Linked DNA regions of Homo sapiens. The protein of the gene in region 1 interacts with the protein of each later gene in a biochemical or structural test. Each region holds a gene or a part of one and is shown on either strand. Other genes may lie near its edges.

Evidence for each region. Proteins that work in one complex are often made in the same cells at the same time.
Region 2: the proteins of UBE2B (region 1) and RNF40 form a complex in vitro, tested with the Homo sapiens proteins (3 studies listed by BioGRID).
Region 3: the proteins of UBE2B (region 1) and RNF20 form a complex in vitro, tested with the Homo sapiens proteins (4 studies listed by BioGRID, with this or other methods).

What each region holds. Positions count from the first base shown.
Region 1 is NC_000005.10:134,388,550-134,392,622, forward strand, and holds the end of UBE2B (ubiquitin-conjugating enzyme E2 B), read left to right. Parts: intron 1-1,675; coding exon 1,676-1,804; 3' UTR 1,805-3,559; downstream 3,560-4,073. UniProt on the Homo sapiens protein: E2 ubiquitin-conjugating enzyme that accepts ubiquitin from the ubiquitin-activating enzyme E1 and transfers it to a E3 ubiquitin-protein ligase. In vitro catalyzes 'Lys-11'-, as well as 'Lys-48'- and 'Lys-63'-linked polyubiquitination.
Region 2 is NC_000016.10:30,757,775-30,765,349, forward strand, and holds the start of RNF40 (E3 ubiquitin-protein ligase BRE1B), read left to right. Parts: upstream 1-4,547; 5' UTR 4,548-4,586; exon of another isoform or gene 4,587-4,624; intron 4,625-4,700; 5' UTR 4,701-4,771; coding exon 4,772-4,903; intron 4,904-5,343; coding exon 5,344-5,511; intron 5,512-5,643; coding exon 5,644-5,785; intron 5,786-6,404; coding exon 6,405-6,611; intron 6,612-7,163; coding exon 7,164-7,285; intron 7,286-7,406; coding exon 7,407-7,553; intron 7,554-7,575. Other genes in the region: CFAP119 (cilia- and flagella-associated protein 119), read right to left, coding at 1,238-1,327, 1,404-1,473, 1,568-1,950, 2,510-2,679, 2,832-2,894, 3,424-3,455, 3,771-3,974.
Region 3 is NC_000009.12:101,550,848-101,557,880, reverse strand, and holds part of RNF20 (E3 ubiquitin-protein ligase BRE1A), read right to left. Parts: intron 6,198-7,033; coding exon 6,062-6,197; intron 5,741-6,061; coding exon 5,619-5,740; intron 5,499-5,618; coding exon 5,128-5,498; intron 3,894-5,127; coding exon 3,776-3,893; intron 3,188-3,775; coding exon 3,038-3,187; intron 498-3,037; coding exon 285-497; intron 1-284. UniProt on the Homo sapiens protein: Component of the RNF20/40 E3 ubiquitin-protein ligase complex that mediates monoubiquitination of 'Lys-120' of histone H2B (H2BK120ub1).

The DNA of each region.
Region 1 (4,073 bases):
CCTACTTGGGATCCAGTCTGCAGTCCCTTTCCTGATTGTGTAAGTTACATGTTCTCACAGGTCAAACCTAATTTGTGTCCATGAAGCATAGCCAAGGGTTGTGGAAAAGAAAAAATGGCTTGGAAAAACCATAGGAACCTAAAGAAACTGCCAAGTGTAGATAAGCATTGAGTATGTTACCCCATCCAAGAAATTCTATTTTAAAAAAAGAAAGGAAAACTAATGTAACCATTTGTCGAAGCAGTCTGGCAGAATATTTCAGAATAGATCTTTGAATGAAAATTTAGGAGGGGTGGAGTGAGGGGTGTTTCGGTTTTGTGGATTTGAGAGGAGCAGAAATAATATGTTGGTTTGTGATGTTCTTTTTAAAGTTTTTTCTCTCACACTTCTTTAATTGTTTTTTTTTTTTTTTTTTTTTTTGAGACAGTGTCTTGCTCTGTTGCCCAGACTGGAGTGCAATGGCACAATCTTGGCTCACCGCAACCTCTGCCTCCCGGGTTCAAGTGATTATCCTGCCTCAGCCTCCTGAGTAGCTAGGACTATAGGCACATGCTACCACGCCTGGCTAAGTTTTTGTATTTTTAGTAGAGATGGGGTTTCACAGTGTTAGCCAGGATGGTCTCCATCTGACCTCATGATCCGCCCGTCTGAGCCTCCGAAAGTGTTGGGATTACAGGCGTGAGCTACTGCACCAGGCCAGTTCTGGTCATCTTACAAGCGTTGTTTTTCAACCTTCCTATCTCATTCTCTTCCTGCTAAATGTATATGTTTTGTTGATTAAAGGAAATAAGACTTATCTCCCAAATTTACTGTCAAGACATTTGCAAAGTAACTGCAGTAATAGAGTTTAACCTTGGAAAATGTTGGTTACTGAGAATTATTGATATCTTAACCAAATTAAGCTGTTTATTTCCTTGGTTTAATGAGAACGTCTCAATATGCTTAAGAATATTCTTTTCTGATTTCTTTCAAATTATAGGTATTTTTTTCTTTTCTTTTTTCTTTTTTTTTTTTTTGAGACGGAATTTCACCCTTGTTGCCCAGGCTGGAGTACAGTGGCGCGATCTCAGCTCACTGCAACCTCTGCCTCCCGGGTTCAAGCAATTCTCCTGCCTCAGCCTTCCGAGTAGCGGATTACGGGCATGCGCCACCACACCCGGCTAATTTTGTATTTTTAGAAATTACGGGGTTTTCTCCATGTTGGTCAGGCTGGTCTCGAACTCCCTACCTCAGGTGATCTGCCCGCCTCGGCCTCCCACAGTGCTGGGATTACAGGCGTGAGCCACCACACCCGACCTCTTTTTCTTTTTTAATAGAAACAGGGTCTCCCTATGTTGCCCAGGCTGGGCTTGAACTGCTGGGCTCAAGGGATCCTCCTGCCTTGGCCTCCCAAAGTGTTAGGATTACAGGCACAAGCCACTGTACCCAGCTGAAATTATAGGTCTTAAGGCAATTGAGAACTTTATTTCAGAAGCTTAAGTTCCTTAGCAGCAGGAAACCCCATAGTATTTATCAAATCATTTCTAAAAGTATTTAGACCCAAAATTATATGACATGTTAATCTCTGAAGTAATTTGTTGTTTTGTATAACTTTTCTGTAATATATTCCATATCTGACCCCTGTTGGTATAAAGAACAACTATGCAAATCTGTTTTTTCTTTTCTTTCCTCCTAGTCTCTGCTGGATGAACCGAATCCTAACAGTCCAGCCAATAGCCAGGCAGCACAGCTTTATCAGGAAAACAAACGAGAATATGAGAAAAGAGTTTCGGCCATTGTTGAACAAAGCTGGAATGATTCATAATAGACAACTGGTCTGTTAATCTTTTTCATCATTGTTGTGTATAATTTACCTCTCATTAGAAAGGCTAACAAATTTTAAGTGCCACAGGTTTTAAGGATTCTGCAGAAAAAAAAGAAAAAAGTCCTTCAGTTTAGAACCTACAAAAGCTTGTGTATCTTGATTAATGTACTTTTTATTGCATGGTGTGAACTAAGTTATTGCTGCATAAATTTGTAATATATCCTGTTTGTATTTTTTTCCAAGTGTATAATGTTGGTGTGGAGTTTTCATGACAGAATATACACATTTTGTAAATCTGTACTTTTTTCAAATATTGAATGCCTTATTTTTGAATTCTTTAGATTTTTAAATTGGAGAAAAGCACTTAAAGTTTTTTATATATGAATATTACATGTAAAGCTGTTAAAATACATAACTTCAGTGCAAGAGACTTTGTCACTTATTTCCTTATGTGTGTAGGAGGGGTTAATAAGTCTCTAGCTCTCCATCTATTGATAGTTTCATTTACAATTTCAAAAGAACATTCTTATATTTTATCAAGGAAGTCTTCAAATTTGATTCTAAATAGCGATTATAATCTCCAACTTTATTTTGAATGTACCTCTATTAGTTTCAATTGAGTAATTCTAGACATAACTGGTTTGACTCTGTCCAACTCTGTATTTAGGCCATTTGTTACAGTTTCTTCATGCATTACTTACTGTTAAAACTGTACCTTTTGCGATTTCACAGTTGGCACTTCTGCCATGAGCAGAGAACTGATGCGACTTGTTTTGCTGCTTGGTAGCACTTTAAAAAATTTTTTGATTAATGAAGAAAGTAAAACCATAAACATTTGCCAAAAATTCATGCCCCAGTATTAGCAATGAATTAGTTGCATTGGTTTGAGAAAGGCACATATTGGAGGGAAATCTTGGTGTAACTTAAATATTTGAAAATTACCTTTAATGCAATGCATATCTGTTTATTCTGGGAAATGTTTTAATGCCAGGGCCTGCTGAGTTGCTTCTTCTTGTGGAGATTTTTTTTTTAATCTCCTGAGTTGTATAAAAGTTGTACTGCATCTTAGTTTACTGGATAAATTTAAAACACAGTATTGTAGAAAGCTAATACAAAACTATCCTATGCCTTCAAATAGTATAGAAAATGGAAAATATACAAGTAAATTCTGTTGAACCACCTGTGTAGTCTCTCTAGTAGTTAAAACAGCTATTTTAGTAACCCCAAGAGTTTCTTCTCATATCCATAAAATTGGATTACAGTATGGCAATATCTACAGCTTCTATTCATTATGCAACGTTTAACATTGATTGGATAAATGCTTATAGGCTGGGCCAGGTGGCTCCCACCTGTAGTCCCAGCACTTTGGGAGGCAAAGGCGGGAGGATCACTTGAGGCCAGGACTTTGAGACCAGCCAGGGCAACATAATAAGACTTTTCTCTACTTTAAATTTTTTAAAAAATTAGTTGGGCATAGTGGCACTTGCCTGTAGTCTCAGCTACTTAGGAGGCTGAGGTGGCAGAATAGCTTATGCCTAGGAGGTTGAGGCTGCAGTGAGCTGTGATTATGCCATTGCACTCCAGCCTGGGTGACAGAGCAATACCCTGTCTTTAAAAATAAAAGCTATTACTTGGCAAATTCTGAGGTAAGTGTATGATCTTAGGGAACTTTGATACAAATGGGAATTCACTCACTGGAATCGTGGCTCCCAAAAAGATGCTTTAATTGTGTGGTGCTTTTATAGTTTAGCTCCAAAACAAACTATAGACATTCACTCCAGTAACTCCTAGATTAAATATACAGTAGCTATGAGGGTCTGCCCTCTTATTTCATTAAATGCTATTTGGTTACTATTTCAACATCCATTTTTATCCTTGACCTGTTTTTGCCTTTCCCAGTTTAAAACAGGAAAATTTCAAGTATTGGTAGATAATTATAAAGAAGTTACATGTTACTTTACAGGGAGGTCAGTGAGTTCTAACTCCAAAATTCAACATATGCATAAAACTCATAGCATCCACATTCCTTTTCGAGAAAATCCTTAAGAAGGTTCAATCTATACATAACTCCTCACTTTTTTCTGCAGCCTTGGAACAGATTCCTATTTCTTTGGTTAAGTACCAGATATAAACCTTCGATTTACAAGGTTGAGTCATACAAAAAGTGTTTACTTTAAACTCTAGGTCAGTTTCATAAATGTATGGTAGGGCAAGAAGCTAGAACTAAAATGTTTATGTTGGTACAAAGTTATATTGATGGATTCATGTT
Region 2 (7,575 bases), on another chromosome or scaffold:
GTTGTTTCCCTTTAGGAAATGTTAGCAAGCCCTTGTGTGAGAGGTAGTTGGGTAGGGTGGCTATGCTGGACTTTGCAGCTTCAAATTCTGATCCCTACTCAGTAGCTGTGTGACCTTAGGCAGGTTATTTAACCTATCTGTGCCTCAGTTTCCTTGTATGAAATGTGGATAGTGATACCTAGCACATAGGATTGAGGGAGGATTAAATGAGTTAATTTATGTAAAATGCTTAGAGCAGGGCATGCACTGCACACCTATTGCCAAGTATGTGCTGGCTGTTATTGTCATTGGCTTTCTCTTTTTTTTTTTTTTTTTGAGATGGAGTCTTGCTTTATCCCCCAGGCTGGAGTGCAGTGGCAGCGATCTCAGCTCACTGCAAGCTCTGCCTCCCAGGTTCATGCCATTCTCCTGCCTCAGCCTCCCAGTAGCTGGGACTACAGGCACCCGCCACCACGCCCGGCTAACTTTTTGTATTTTTAGTAGAGACGGGGTTTCACAGTGTTAGCCAGGATGGACTCGATCTCCTGACCTCGTGATCCGCCTGCCTCAGCCTCCCAAAGTGCTGGGATTACAGTTGTGAGCCACTGCACCTGGCCTGTTCTTTGTTTTTTTTTAACTCTTAAGTTCTGGGATACGAGCAGAACATGCAGGTTTGCTACGTAGGTATACATGGGCCATGGTGGTTTGCTTTACCCATCAACCCATCATATAGGTTTTAAGCCACCGTCATTGGCTTTCTAATGATCATTTCTCTGGAGCCACTTCAGCTGTGCTTTTTGTTTGTTTGTTTGTTTGTTTTGAGACAGAGTCTTGCTCTGTTGCCCAGGCTGGAGTGCAGTGGCCAGATCTTGGCTCACTGCAGTCTCCACCTCCTGGGTTCATGCAGTTCTCCTGCCTCAGCCTCCTGAGTAGCTGGGACTACAAGCGCGCACCACCATGCCTGGCTATTTTTTGTATTTTAGTAGATAGGGGGTTTCACGGTGTTGCCCAGGCTGGTCGCGAACTCCTGAGCTCAGGCAATCCGCCTGCCTCAGATTGTGCTGGGATTACAGGTGTGAGCCACCACGCCTGGCCTGCAGCTGTGCTTTTATCTGTCATCTTGGACTTCTGCATAAGGGATCATTTAGAGAAAGGACTCTGACTAAAAACAAAAAGTCTGAAGTCCTGATGTCATCCAAACCCTTCATTCTACACCTGCTCAGAGGGACAGGGCAGCCTGCCCTCTCCAGATCCTCACTTGGCTCTGGCTCTGGTGGGGCCACTGTCTCTAGTTCCTCTTTCTGCGGGGTAACTGCCTGCTCCTCCATCTCCTTGCTTTCTTCTTTCTCTGCAAACCAGAAGCAGGAAGAGACTGTGGCCCCAGGCCTGGCCCAGCCCAGCCCTGCCCTGGCACTCTCCCTTACCCGTCTCACTCTCTGGCCACAGTTTGGGTGGCTGTAGCCCCATGTAAGTCAAAGACAGATCCAGCCGCACCTGGGAAGCAAGGCAGAGGGAGGCTGAAAGGAGTGCACCTGTGCTGAGGGGAGGGGCGGTTGAGGGTGGCTCCTCATGGTCCACCACCCCCTACCTGGGGTGTGAAGACGTATTTATAGAGCTTGAAGTGGCGGAAGTAAGTGTTGACCACGTAGTCTTCCAAGGCCAGCAGCTGTTCCTCTTTGAAGAGGTCGATGCTGAAAGGAGGCCGCTGTGGTGGTGACTCGGAATTAGAACCCTGACTACCTTCCGGAGCCCTGGCTTTGCCTCCAAAAGCCCAGCAACAGGAGCAAGGAGAGCCCACTGGGGTCTTCACAAGAAGATAAGGGTGATGAATGTGAGAGAGACTGGGTGAGACCTTGTCTGGGGATGGGTAAAGTTTCCAGAATGTTCCAGGGGAACTGACCCTGACTCCATGGCAAAAAAGGACACTGGTGAAGTAGCGGTAGCACTCCTCCACGTTGCCCAAGGGGGTTGCTGGTAGGGAAAGCAAGATGCAGCAGTGAGGCCCTCTCTGGTATCCATTCATTCACTTCACTCAACAGCTGTTTATGACCATGAGCTTCAGAAGCAGACAGATCTGGGTTTCAGCACTGGCTTGTTTCCTTAACTCATGTAACAAATACTGAATACCCACTATATGCCCACTGTATGGTTTTCGGCACTGAACAAGACAGACAAGGTCCTGCCCTTACGAAGCTTATATTCTAGGGGAATAAACCAAGAAATAGATCATTTCAGCTATTAAACATTCTGAAGCAAGAGCTATTAAACATTCTAAAGCAGGTGTTATTGTGCACTATGCATATATTTGCATATATTATTTCTCAGAACAGTCCTGTAAAATGTGTGCTGTATCCTTAATTTCTAGATAAGGAAGCAGTGGATTGGAAAGCTGATGGCTTGTGTATGATGATGCTACTAATAATGACATATTCCAGGCAGAAATCCCCTGCTTCTGCTTCCCATGGTCACTTGTGCCAGGCCCGGTTCCTCTTCTCCCTGGGGCTCAAACCTGGTAGCTGCCCCCTCTCACCAATACAAGCCTTGTGAAGATCCTGGAGCAGGGCACAAGCCGCTGACGTCTGCTCCAGTGAGAAGCCCTGCTGGCGGCAGAAAATGAGCGCGTGGCAGAAGAGGTCCAGGGTGATGGCGTCCCTCAGGCTCTGCTCAGGACACCCTAGCTCCAGCAGCTCAGCCAGCACCCTTGGGAGGGAGAGAGGAGTGAGTGACAACTGGGCCTCCTTTCATCACCCTACACCCACCACATGCTTTGGAGTCAGCCATTCCTCATGTTTTCCCAACCTGACCCCTCAGCCTTTGCCAAGAGCTCTTCCCACGCCCCCCTCAGTCCCTACTCCCTCATCTCAGCATTGGTGGTCTTCTCCAGCTGGTGCATGGAATGGACGTCCAGGTACTTCCTGTTATAGTAAAAGAAAAAGAGTATTGGTGGCCGTTACCTATCATGACAAGGCTGTGACAGCTAGTGCGTGAGACTGGGAGTTGGCCACCGGCGTGAAGCTGGGCTCTTTTGCCAGCTTGCTGTGTGACTATGCAAATCGTTAACTCTCTGGGCCTAAATGAACTCTTATGAGCCTCTCCATTTCTAAAGCCTAGGGTTAGGAATCTTGAATTCTTTTTTCTGCTCTGCCACTACCTTGTATGACCTTGGTCAAGTACTCCCTGTGGCCCTCAGTGTCCCCCTCTGTACAATACTCCTTAGCGGCCATGAGACTCCATTTACATTCTGTCTTTGGCTCTTTTTTTCTCACACTGCCTCCTCTTTGGACTGGAGAGGCTGGAAAGCCAACTTCCAGTCACCTGGAGTAATTGCATCTCCAGGCCTCAGTCTCATCTGTAAAATGGGGATGCCCTGGCCACAGACAGGACTGTTGGGGAGACAATAAAGAACGCAAATATTCAGTGTAATTTTTGTCTCTTCACACTCACCACATGCAGATCCGGGGTCGGGGCAGCGGCGGCTGCGGAAAGAAAGCGAATTGGGGAAGGCAGCTGCGGTGTCCTGGCCCGTAGCGAATCTCCAGCAGGCCGGAGAAGCCGCTGTAACTTGCCATCTCATCTCAAGGACTAAGGAGAGGCGCGGGCGAGGGAGGGCTTCAGCAGGCCCTAGGTGCTCTACGCGAGCACAGTAACCACCGGGGTCACACACCCCTGCCTCTCCTCGCCCAAGCAGCCCGGGAGACGTCCCGAACGTTAGTAAGCATAATGACAGGTGGCGCCTGCGGGGGAGCCGGTTTATAAATATTCACGAGCAGACCAGACTGTCCCGCCCTCACCGGAAACAAGTTGGCTCCGGGGTCTTCATCCGCTTTCGCCGCCGCCGCCGTCGTCCACTGAGTCCGCACACTCGCACGCGTCCGCGCGGCCGACCCATGCACTGAGCTGCGATCCTTCCCCGCTTCCCGCCGCAGCTCGGAGAGATGTTCAAGCTCCGACTGCACCCTCATTCCCAAAAAGTGGCTGGTCTTGCGGTTGAGCATCTCGCCGCTCTTCCGTGCCGCGAGGCGCCCCGGGCTCCCGCCGCCTAGGTTCCAGGACAGCCAGCGCTCGGTCGGCGGCTACCAAGGCCGGGCCCGTTCGCCTCGCTCCGGCCAATCTACGCGCGGAGAGGCGCGGCGGGGCGAATCCGTGGGGGCGTCTCCCTCCGTCTCAACGGCGACGGTTGCCAAGGGGGCTTGTGAGGGAAGGAAGGCGGAAAGCGCAGGCTCACGCCAGTGGGAGCGAAGAGAACGCGCAGATACGTGAGAAGTTGCGAGTGCCCACCTGGGCGCCCTCTCTTCCAGGTTGCTAATACGAGGGCCGGTGCTGTCCTCCAGGCTGGGAAGTGGGAGCGCGGTGTCAGTTACTATGGGAACTGCCTCTTGGCCAATCACCGAGAGAAAGAGGAGGTGTTTGGGAAGAAGCCAGAGGACCCGAGTGGCGGGACCAAGCGTAACCAATAGAAGCAGAAGATAAAGAAGTTTCCTCACATCCGGGGCTGCCTTTGGCGCCTGCGCCCTGCGCACCGTTGGGGGGGGGGCAGTGGCGTCCAGTGACGCCCAGTGACGTCCGGTGAAATCCAAGATGGCGGCGCTAGGCTGACCCTCCTGCTGGTGAGGGCTCTGGCGCCGGGGGGGACGGGATCCAGCAGGTGTGTGCAGGGTGGAGGGTGTTTGGGGCTGTGGAACACCAGCCGTTCCCACATCTCTGCTCTGTGTCTTCTGCAGGTGACGGAAGTACCGCCTCCTCCCGTTTGACGCCCCTCAGGGGACCCTGCATCGCTCCAGCCGCCGCGGCCATGTCTGGGCCAGGCAACAAACGCGCCGCCGGCGACGGGGGCTCAGGGCCCCCGGAAAAGAAGCTGAGTCGTGAGGAGAAGACCACCACGACTCTTATCGAGCCCATTCGTCTTGGAGGCATCTCTTCCACGGTTCGTGGGCTCTTGCCTTAACCCTCAGAACTTCCCAGAGCCCTCCCTCTGTTCTCTGGCCAAACTGTGCGGAATCTTACACCCACTTCCCCAAGTTTAGCAAGGTCCGCGTTACAGGACCTTGAAAGAAAGGTTAGAAAGAAGCTCAGAACACGACGCCTGTCTTCCCTTTACAGATAGGAAAACAGGTTTCCAGGGGGCGTGTGACTTGTCAAAGACTAAGGATTTACAAGGGGACAGGCAGAAACAACGTGAGCCTCCTCACAACAAAGACACTTTCGCTGTGTGTTGTCTGAGCCTCCTTAGATTCTGTTAGCGGTTAGTGTGGGAATACCTCCATCTCCCATGCATTGCAGATGCTCTGCTCCTCTTTCTCTCTCTGTGATTGGTTTGTGGGCCCTGCTTGACGCTCTCGTCGGCCCCTTTGTTTCCTTTGGTAGGAGGAGATGGACCTGAAGGTACTACAGTTCAAGAACAAGAAACTGGCAGAGCGGCTGGAACAACGGCAGGCTTGTGAAGATGAACTCCGAGAACGAATTGAGAAGTTGGAGAAGCGGCAGGCCACAGATGATGCCACACTCCTCATCGTCAATCGCTACTGGGCCCAGGTGGATACCTTCTGCTTTCAAAGACCAGGCCTTGATTCAGCTGCCAATCCCCAGATTCCCCTGCTAGGAAAGGAGTATCATGTTGGAAAGCACTAAGGGATTCATAACATTTTTGATGTTTTCTCCTTCCAGCTGGATGAAACTGTGGAAGCCCTTCTCCGATGCCATGAGAGCCAGGGGGAGCTGTCTTCAGCGCCTGAGGCACCTGGGACCCAGGAGGGGCCAACATGTGATGGGACTCCTCTCCCAGAGCCGGGGACATCAGAGCTGAGAGGTAGGACCAGAGTGCTGGGATCTGGGGAGCTTAAGTTCTGGGAGAAGTCCTGGGGAGGAGGGGACTTTGGTGTTGGGCCCCTGAATTGCCTATCTTACTACTTCTCACGAAATGGATTTCATGTTTGGGCAGTAAAGTGCAGTGCACAAAAACACAGGCTTTAGACTCTGACTAACTTGGTTTATAGAGCAATTCATGTTTTGACACCCATTTGTTTCAAAACAGTATTATGGTTGAGTATTAAATATGTATTTGACGCTTCCTAGAAATGAGTGTTGCACTTGCTATAAGGGAGGAAATTATAAACATAGTAAGCAGAAAGTACTGGGGCTCCTGAAACGGAATGATTGTGTGTGCATGCATGTGCGTGTGATTCTAATTATATTGGTAAAGTACAGGAAGCTTCCCTGAGGATGTGATACGCAACTCTGTAGCTTTGAGGAAATTACTTTACCTCCCTGAATTTCATTTGTCTCACTTTCAGGATGGAGATAATAGTGCACTATAGGTTGTGTTGATTAAGTGAACCATGAGTATTGAAGGGCTCAGTCTGGAACTTGGTACAGAGTGGTAGTAACTGCTGCTCTTATCCTCATGAGGGTCTGTCCATTCCTTCCAGACCCCTTGCTGATGCAGCTGCGGCCCCCTCTCAGTGAGCCGGCCTTGGCTTTTGTGGTGGCACTGGGTGCCAGCAGCAGTGAGGAGGTGGAGCTGGAGCTGCAAGGCCGAATGGAGTTCTCCAAGGCAGCTGTGTCTCGTGTGGTAGAGGCCTCAGACCGCCTACAGCGCCGGGTGGAGGAACTCTGTCAGCGAGTGTACAGCCGAGGTGGGTTCTTTGTGCCCATACTGAAGGGGTGTCCATCCCCACCTGCATCTTGATGGCACCCCTTCCTGATTCCCCTAATGCCCGAGTCCAAGGGCGGCCAGAATTTCCCAAGGAATAAATCAGCCATGTTCTTGGAAGAGGTAGGTTAGGCTGTAGATGGGGGTTCCAACTTTGATTCCGGGATTGAATGCTAGAGAGATGGGTTGGAGGAGTTGTTGATGCCGGTAGAGGCTCCTGGCCAGAGGCCCCTCTGGAGCACTTGGTGTGGGTTGCGGATCCACAAGGCATAGCTTCAAGGGCTCAGGCCTTGTAGGTTGACAGGCTTCTCCCACCTTAGTTCTGCCACCCTCACCTGGACATGCTGGGAAAGTGGCTCCCCTCTCTGAGCTGGTTTCCTTCTCTGTGCAGTGGGGATAAAGACTCCTGGCTTTGTCATGAGAAATGGGCAAGACAGCTGGTGGATCACACTGGGTATATAGCAGACTCCAGAATGAGTTAGTTGTTTGCCCCATTGCCCTGAGCTGGGCTCTTACCTGGGCCCTGCCTTCCCAGGGGACAGTGAGCCCCTCAGTGAGGCGGCTCAGGCACACACCCGAGAGCTGGGCCGTGAGAACCGGCGACTGCAGGACTTGGCCACTCAGCTGCAGGAGAAACACCACCGCATCTCATTGGAGGTGAGGAGCCGGGGGCTTTGGGGGTGTGATTAGAATCAGGCAGGATTTGGGTTAGATGGGCACTCAGGGACCTCAGGAACCAAGTCCCCCATCCAAGCATCTGCTCCCTCATTGTTCCCAGTACTCCGAGCTCCAGGATAAAGTGACATCGGCAGAGACCAAGGTGCTGGAGATGGAGACAACAGTGGAGGACTTGCAGTGGGACATCGAGAAGCTGCGGAAGCGAGAGCAAAAGCTCAATAAGCACCTGGCAGAGGCCTTAGAGCAGGTGGGGCAGGGGTGCTGGGGCA
Region 3 (7,033 bases), on another chromosome or scaffold:
ACATATACTTTAACGCAAAAAGGATAACAAAACACGTCACTTGATTTTATTTCAGACATGTTTCCATATTAGCAGATCCATATTTGACAAGTACACTGTACTCTTTTGTAGGAATAACAGTAGAGATGTATAATTTATTTACCAATACCCTAATGATGAACATTTAGTTTTCAAATTTTTTTCCAATCACAAAAATGTGCCACAATAATCATTCTTTTACTTATATCATCATGTAGAAAGCACCCTATTTCAACAGAATAGAAAGCTCTACTCATCCTAATTACCTGAGTCTTCAGAGTCAACACCTGGTCTGCCAGCTCCTCCTTCTCTTCTTTAAGCAACTTATGGATCTGATTGGACTTGATACGCTCTGACATGAGCTTGAAATTTGCATCATCCTTCTCCCGCAATTGCTGCATCAAACGGATATTTTGCTCCTGCATGTCTTCAAAGGCCTGGCCTGTGACATCCATTTCAGAGAGGAGTGCTTCTTCTTCCTAAAGGATGAAGGAAGAGATTTGATTTTAGAAGAATCTTCCAACTTCAATGGAAGAGCACAGGAAACTAAATTTTCCCACTGTTCATTTAGATATAAATTAATTTAGTGACAGAGTTTTAAGAAGTTGTGTTTTGTCACTAGGCATACAGAAGCTCTATTATCTGAAGTCACTGGCACCAATTGTTGGTCTGATACTTATTAGTTGATCTGTACTCAACGTCAGTTAAATTAGACAATAATTGTATTTACCTTAATCTAGACAAACGGATCAAGCAGCAATTGGTTAAGAGTACTTCCATCATAACCTCTCACATTTTCTCATGCTTTTCCACAATTAAAATACTGGATCTACAGGATTTCCAGCAGTTGCAAACATCTAAAGCCTTGTAACAATCTGATAGGTGAAGACTGGTATCTAATAATAGCTTTACTTTATATCTATCTCATTTTAAGTGAGACTGAGCATCTTTTCATATGGTTAAGACCACTTGTATTCTTTCCATAACCAACTCATTTCTTTTGCCTATTCTTCCACTGGATTCTTGAGTTTTTTTCCCTATTTTGGAGAGTTTTTTTTGTATCAGATAAGCCTTCTTTGTAATAAAAGTTAAAAATATTTTTTACTTTTTGTCATTTAATCTTTTGGCTTTGCTAACAGTGTTTTTTGCAGTGTAGAAGTTTTGCATCATTTTAAAAAATAACTCAAAATTATCAATTTTTTGTTCATGTTTTCTAGCCTTTTATTCATAGAAAGGTCTCCACTCCAAATTATAAAGGAATTTAATGGTTTTCTTCTAGCTTTTTGATGGATGCATTTTTTAAAATATCATATCTATGATCCATTTGGAAATCATCCTAGTGTATTCAAGTATGTATCTAACTTTTCTCTAACATTATTTTTTTTAATTTTGTCCCATCACATGTCACAGTTTTTCTTTTCCCCACTGATTTAAAACTATGTATTTAGCACATAATAAGTATCATGTGTACTTTCAACTACTTCTCAAGTTTCTATTCAGTTCTAATAGCCTGTCTAGTAGTCCCAAGCTATTTCATCTACAGAAACTTTATGTTTTAATATATGGAAGAGACCCCAGTGCTGTTCTTTTTCAATTTCTCTTGTTACTCTTGTTTACTTCTCCACATGTACTTTAAAACCAGTTCTTCTAGTACCAAAATAAACAAAAGCAAAACTTAAAAAAAGCACTTTTATGAGATCACATTATATTAATACATAAACTTAGAAAGACTGAACATTTTTAAGATAGTCATCGTATACAAGAACATAGTGTCTTTCTTTTTACTTGTTCTAGAACCTATAATAGTATAATTTCCTGATAATTACCTTAAGAGAGAGGGAAGAAAAAAAAAAGTGGCATTTACCAGATTTAAGAAAAGTCAAAATTACACTTTTTTTTTTTTTGAGATGGAGTTTTGCTCTTGTTGCCCAGGCTGGAGTGCAATGGCGCCATCTCGGCTCACTGCAACCTCCACTCCTGGGTTCCAGCAATTCTCCTGCCTCAGCCTCCCAAGTAGCTGGGATTACAGGCATGCGCCACCAAGCCCAGCTAATTTTGTTTTTTTTTTTTTTTAATAGTGATGGGGTTTCTCCATGTTGGTCAGGCTGGTCTTGAACTCCCGACTTCAGGTGATCCATCCACCTCGGCCTCCCAAAGTGCTGGGATTACAGGCATGAGCCACCGCGCCCAGCCCAAAATTACACTTGTTAACAAAAGGAATGTGTATAGGATCTAATGAAGTTCTTCTTTTCAAGGCACTTCATGATCAACTTACCATTAAACCTACTCCATCTCACTGTTATTTTGCTATTTCTTAGAAACAATGAAGGTGTACTAACAGAGAATACATATATGGTTTTTTCAAGCATTTTCAGTATCTTTATTATTGAATTTTAATAAAAATTCCCTGGCATTTAAAAATACATACATATTCATTATAAGGAGGAGAACAATCTCTATAGTTCTATGACCCCAAAATAGCCATAGTTAACATACTGCTTAATCAATGTTATTATATTGGTTAATAGATTATATCCTTATTATATATAAATCACATATTTATAAGCATAGTTTTTCTGTGTAGTATATGTACTACATAGAAATATATAATGATATATATTTATAAGCATAGTTTTCTTAGTTTCATATATTTGTAATCATAATGTATATAAAATCTTATGTCTTATTTTTCATTTTATATTCACTATAACCCTTAATTCCAGGTCAGCAAAGAAAGACTAGATCTTCAATAACTGTCTGAACAACAGCAGAGAAAGACTAGATCTTCAATAAATGTCCATTTAAATAAAAGTAAATTTCTTGCCTCACAAATACACAAAACAAAATAACAGAAAGATAAAAGACTTGAAGGTAAGAATTAAAACACACACACAAAAAGGAAAAATACACATTAACAATCAAAAAAAGACCAAAATAAAAAAGCAAATTTCACTGGCAATAACTTATTGTCAAGTAACATTTACTCAAAAAGTCAATTAAATAAAGAAAGTGAGTCCACCTGCTTGGCCATGGCTAGCTTCTTCTGTAGGTATTCTATCTGCTCCTCCACTGCCCGGATCTTCCTCAAGGCATCCTCATCAGCCATTTTCTTGTTCTCTTTCTTCTCTTTATCTTCCAGATCCTTGAGTCTTTGCCTTAGATCTTCCAACTATAAGAGGAAAGGAATTGCACAAAAATAAAAAGTTATAACACATTTTCAAAAATCAATTAATACTGTGCAAAGATAGAAGGTTCATAATACCAAAAGAGTCTTTACAGAATTATAGAACAAGGTACATAATATACTAAAACATTACATAACACCATCTGTTTTAACATCACTCCATTCTACTATGACATGCTTCTATAAGCAACACTTTTGAGAAGTGCACAGGTAACTTTCTTTAGAATAGTGGTTCCCATCCTTTTTTTTAGGCCTCAAAATTTTAAGAGCATAAGACATTCCTCCCAAAAGTAATGAAAAAGATTATCCCTGTAGCAATGAATTACATAGGAAAAACAAGGAATACATACTTTGGAAAGCCTACTCATAACCCCAGTAATTCAGATATATTTTACCATCCTATGGAGAGTTTTAAAATCTCTACTTCAGATGGTCTTTGAAAAGGCAGAAAATGTTGCACTTAAACACTTATTTTAAAGATAAAGAAAGAAATTATATCGTTGGCAAGTATAAAGGAAAATCCCACAAATGAAGATTTTAACCAGAAGGACAGGTAATAGCAGACTAGAATACCTCTGCCTTAGACTTCTTCTCAGCTGCCATCAGCTGAACTTTGTCTCTCTGTTCCTTTGGGGCAGAACGGTACATATCCAGCAATAGTTTCATCTCCTTTTGGCTCTCCTGTGCCTTCCTATGACAGGCGTAGTAGAGGGAGGGGAACAATGTAATAAGAAAATAAAGGTCATCAGAGCAAGGGAATTTTGATTGAGCAGAATATTTTAAAACAGTTTCATTTTACATTTCATATCACACCTAAAAGATAAAATTTTGCACAGACTATCAAAAGACTTTTGGATATGCTTAGAAAGTACAGAAAAGTAAGCTGTATAAAAATGAATCATTTCTCCCTTCAAAGTCCTCTAACAAAGTTATAAAACAGACATTTGTGTACTTGTTATATAGGCAAATTTCTGTGGCCCCCAACCCTGGGTAACTGAGATTCAGTAGGTCTGGGGATGGAGTTCAAAAATTTAAACAAGTGATTTAAACAAGTCACTCAGATGATTCTGATACCACACCAGAAAAAAAAAAAATTGCCTTAAAGAGTTCAAGAGGGAGAAATAAAAGGGAAAAATTTGAAAGTCTGAGATATACTGTTAATCCTAGATTTGACAGCTGAGTGATTAACCATCAGCCAAAGACTAAAACTTCACCTCTTATTAAATTACTAAACCTCTTAACTATACTTTTATATACCAAAAGAGTTCAAGCATTTTGAGCACAGTGGTCTCTCAAGTCCAAACATCAACAAAGGATCAACCATAGAAAGTAAGGAGCAAGAAGTAAGCCGTTCTGCCAGAGAAGTTATTGGTTATACAGGAGAAGGGCCAATGCATAAGGTTATGACACAGAAAAATTCAACAAGTTAAAGGTCTATCTTAGTGTGTCAATGTGTATAGGAGTAAATCTCCTAAGAAAGATATGGCATATTCACAAACCAGTTAACTCTCAGGCAAATAGATCAGATATTGTTCAAGTTACAGTGATATATAAATACTCCACTTAATATCATTTAAATTACAATTAACGCCAGCAATCTGCTCAAATCCAGTGAAGAGCAGTAGTTAATTCCCAATAATTCTCAGAAGTATTACCTCAATCATGACATCCTTTTCCTTAATTTGGATTCATAAAAATAAGGCTACCATCATCGGTTTGCTGATACTCGATCACTGAACCAAAGTACTAAATAGCCATGCAAGCCATTTTGGCTGTGCACTTGAACACGACTTGAAACCAAATTAATTGTACAATCTAAAACATTAAAACGATCAGACAAGCCATGCCATCAACCAAACATTTCATGCATGATGTCTTAATCTTAGCTTTTCAGTCGAAACTGTTACTCTAAATGTGGTTCTTACTTGAGTTCAATCTTCAATTGTTTGATAATTTCTGCTTCCTTTTTCCGTCCATCATCATGTTTGCCTTTCTCTTTATCCTTAGCAGAATCTCTCTCTTTTTCTGACTCTTTTAGCTTCTGCTTCTCTCGTTCTCTCTCCTTCTCCTTCTCCCGTTCTCTTTCTCGTTCCCTCTCCTTCTCCCTCCTTTCTCGTTCTCGTTCTTCTTCATCCCGTTTAGACTTGATTTCATTGGCATCCTCCTGAGATGCCTTTGAAGCTGAGGACTGGGAGGATAAGTCCTCAGAATCTGGTTTTAGCTCCGCAGGCTCATCCTTCGGGTCCTCAGTACTAGACTGGGACTGCAGGAGGGCACTACCACTACGCAGGCGTGTCTGGGAGAATAAAGAAAAGAAAGATGCACATCTCTTATGATAACCACATTGCCGACCTCATTCAAAAGCAGCTTTACGACATTAATAGCAAATGATATTTATTCTATTCCCTCTGGTTACCTTGTTCAGGTCAGACTGGGCTTCTCTCAATTTCCGCTTATATCTCAGGACCTCCCCTTTCAGCTGGTGATTGTGATTCTGGAGGCTACTGATGAGGTGGCGCATCTCCCTGTTTATAGGGCCTTAAATACAGGAACAACAATGTTATGAGGAACCGTGGTAAGGGCAAAGGCACAAGGAGAGAAAGAACAGAACACATCAGGAGGCACTGAGAAATAGGGAGAATTACCAAATAAAAGATTCCTTCTCAGAAGATGAAAACAAAACTGGTCAACTTGAGTTAAAAAACAAACATCCAGGCTGTGAACCAAAATGAATTATAGGATTTAAGGTACTTATGACTTCTGAGTTGAAGTCAGCATTAACAAACCCTGGGGTCTGTGTTGTATCTTTCAAGGAAGGTATTAAGAGCAAACTACAGCATGGAGTGAGAATCATTATACCTGCTTGTTCATTGGCAGCAAGGGTCTGCTCAAATTCTATCCTCAGCATTTCATACTCCTTGCGGACCTGGGCCAATGTATCTTCTAGCTGAATTACTTCAGTCCTCAGCTTCTTATGAAGACTAACCTCATCTCGCTACACACAGATAAAGGAACCAATAAAAAAATTCTTATTAAAATGTAGAAATATCATCATATTCTATGGATTACTCTGAAAATTTCCAGTTCAATCTATACGTAATGAAACCAGATATCTACAAAAGACTAATTTGGAAACTGACAGGATACTGAAAAATAAAGAAAATGGCCACCAATTCTGAGAATATTAGAATTTAGTTGGAGAACTAAACTATAAAACAGTATATAAACATATGTAAAATAGTATTCAATTCATTTGTCAGGCATATATTAAAAGACCAACTATTATAACCATTACCTTAAAAACTATGGAAGATACAGAAATGAACATATGAATAAAAGTTTCTATCTTTTAAAAAAATCATCTACTGGTGCCATTATATGCTTTTTGTTTAAGAAATGTAAGTAATTTTGCAGCTTCTACCCACTATTTTCTCACATACACGTAAGCTCTAGCCATATTAAACTATTTCTCATGCTCTCTCATACCTTTATATGTGCTGTTCTCATGCCGGGAATTCTTCTTCTCCTACTTTCAACTACCAATAATTTATCCTTAATATTTATACCTTACTTTTTTAAGTGGAATCAGGAAACTTCCACAGTCAAATCAGACACTCTTTTCTCATGTATCACATCTTTTGGCTATGCTGCCATTGTACCACATTGCATTCTAATGGATACTATTCTCCCATTACTGCAGACTACAAGATCTGTGAGGGCAGGAATTTTGTCATCTCATCTTTATATGCCCAGTACCTACCAGAGTAAAGACCTACTGCCACTCTATGAATGACAGCTGAATGAATGAGAGATTAATTGCACATGAGGGAG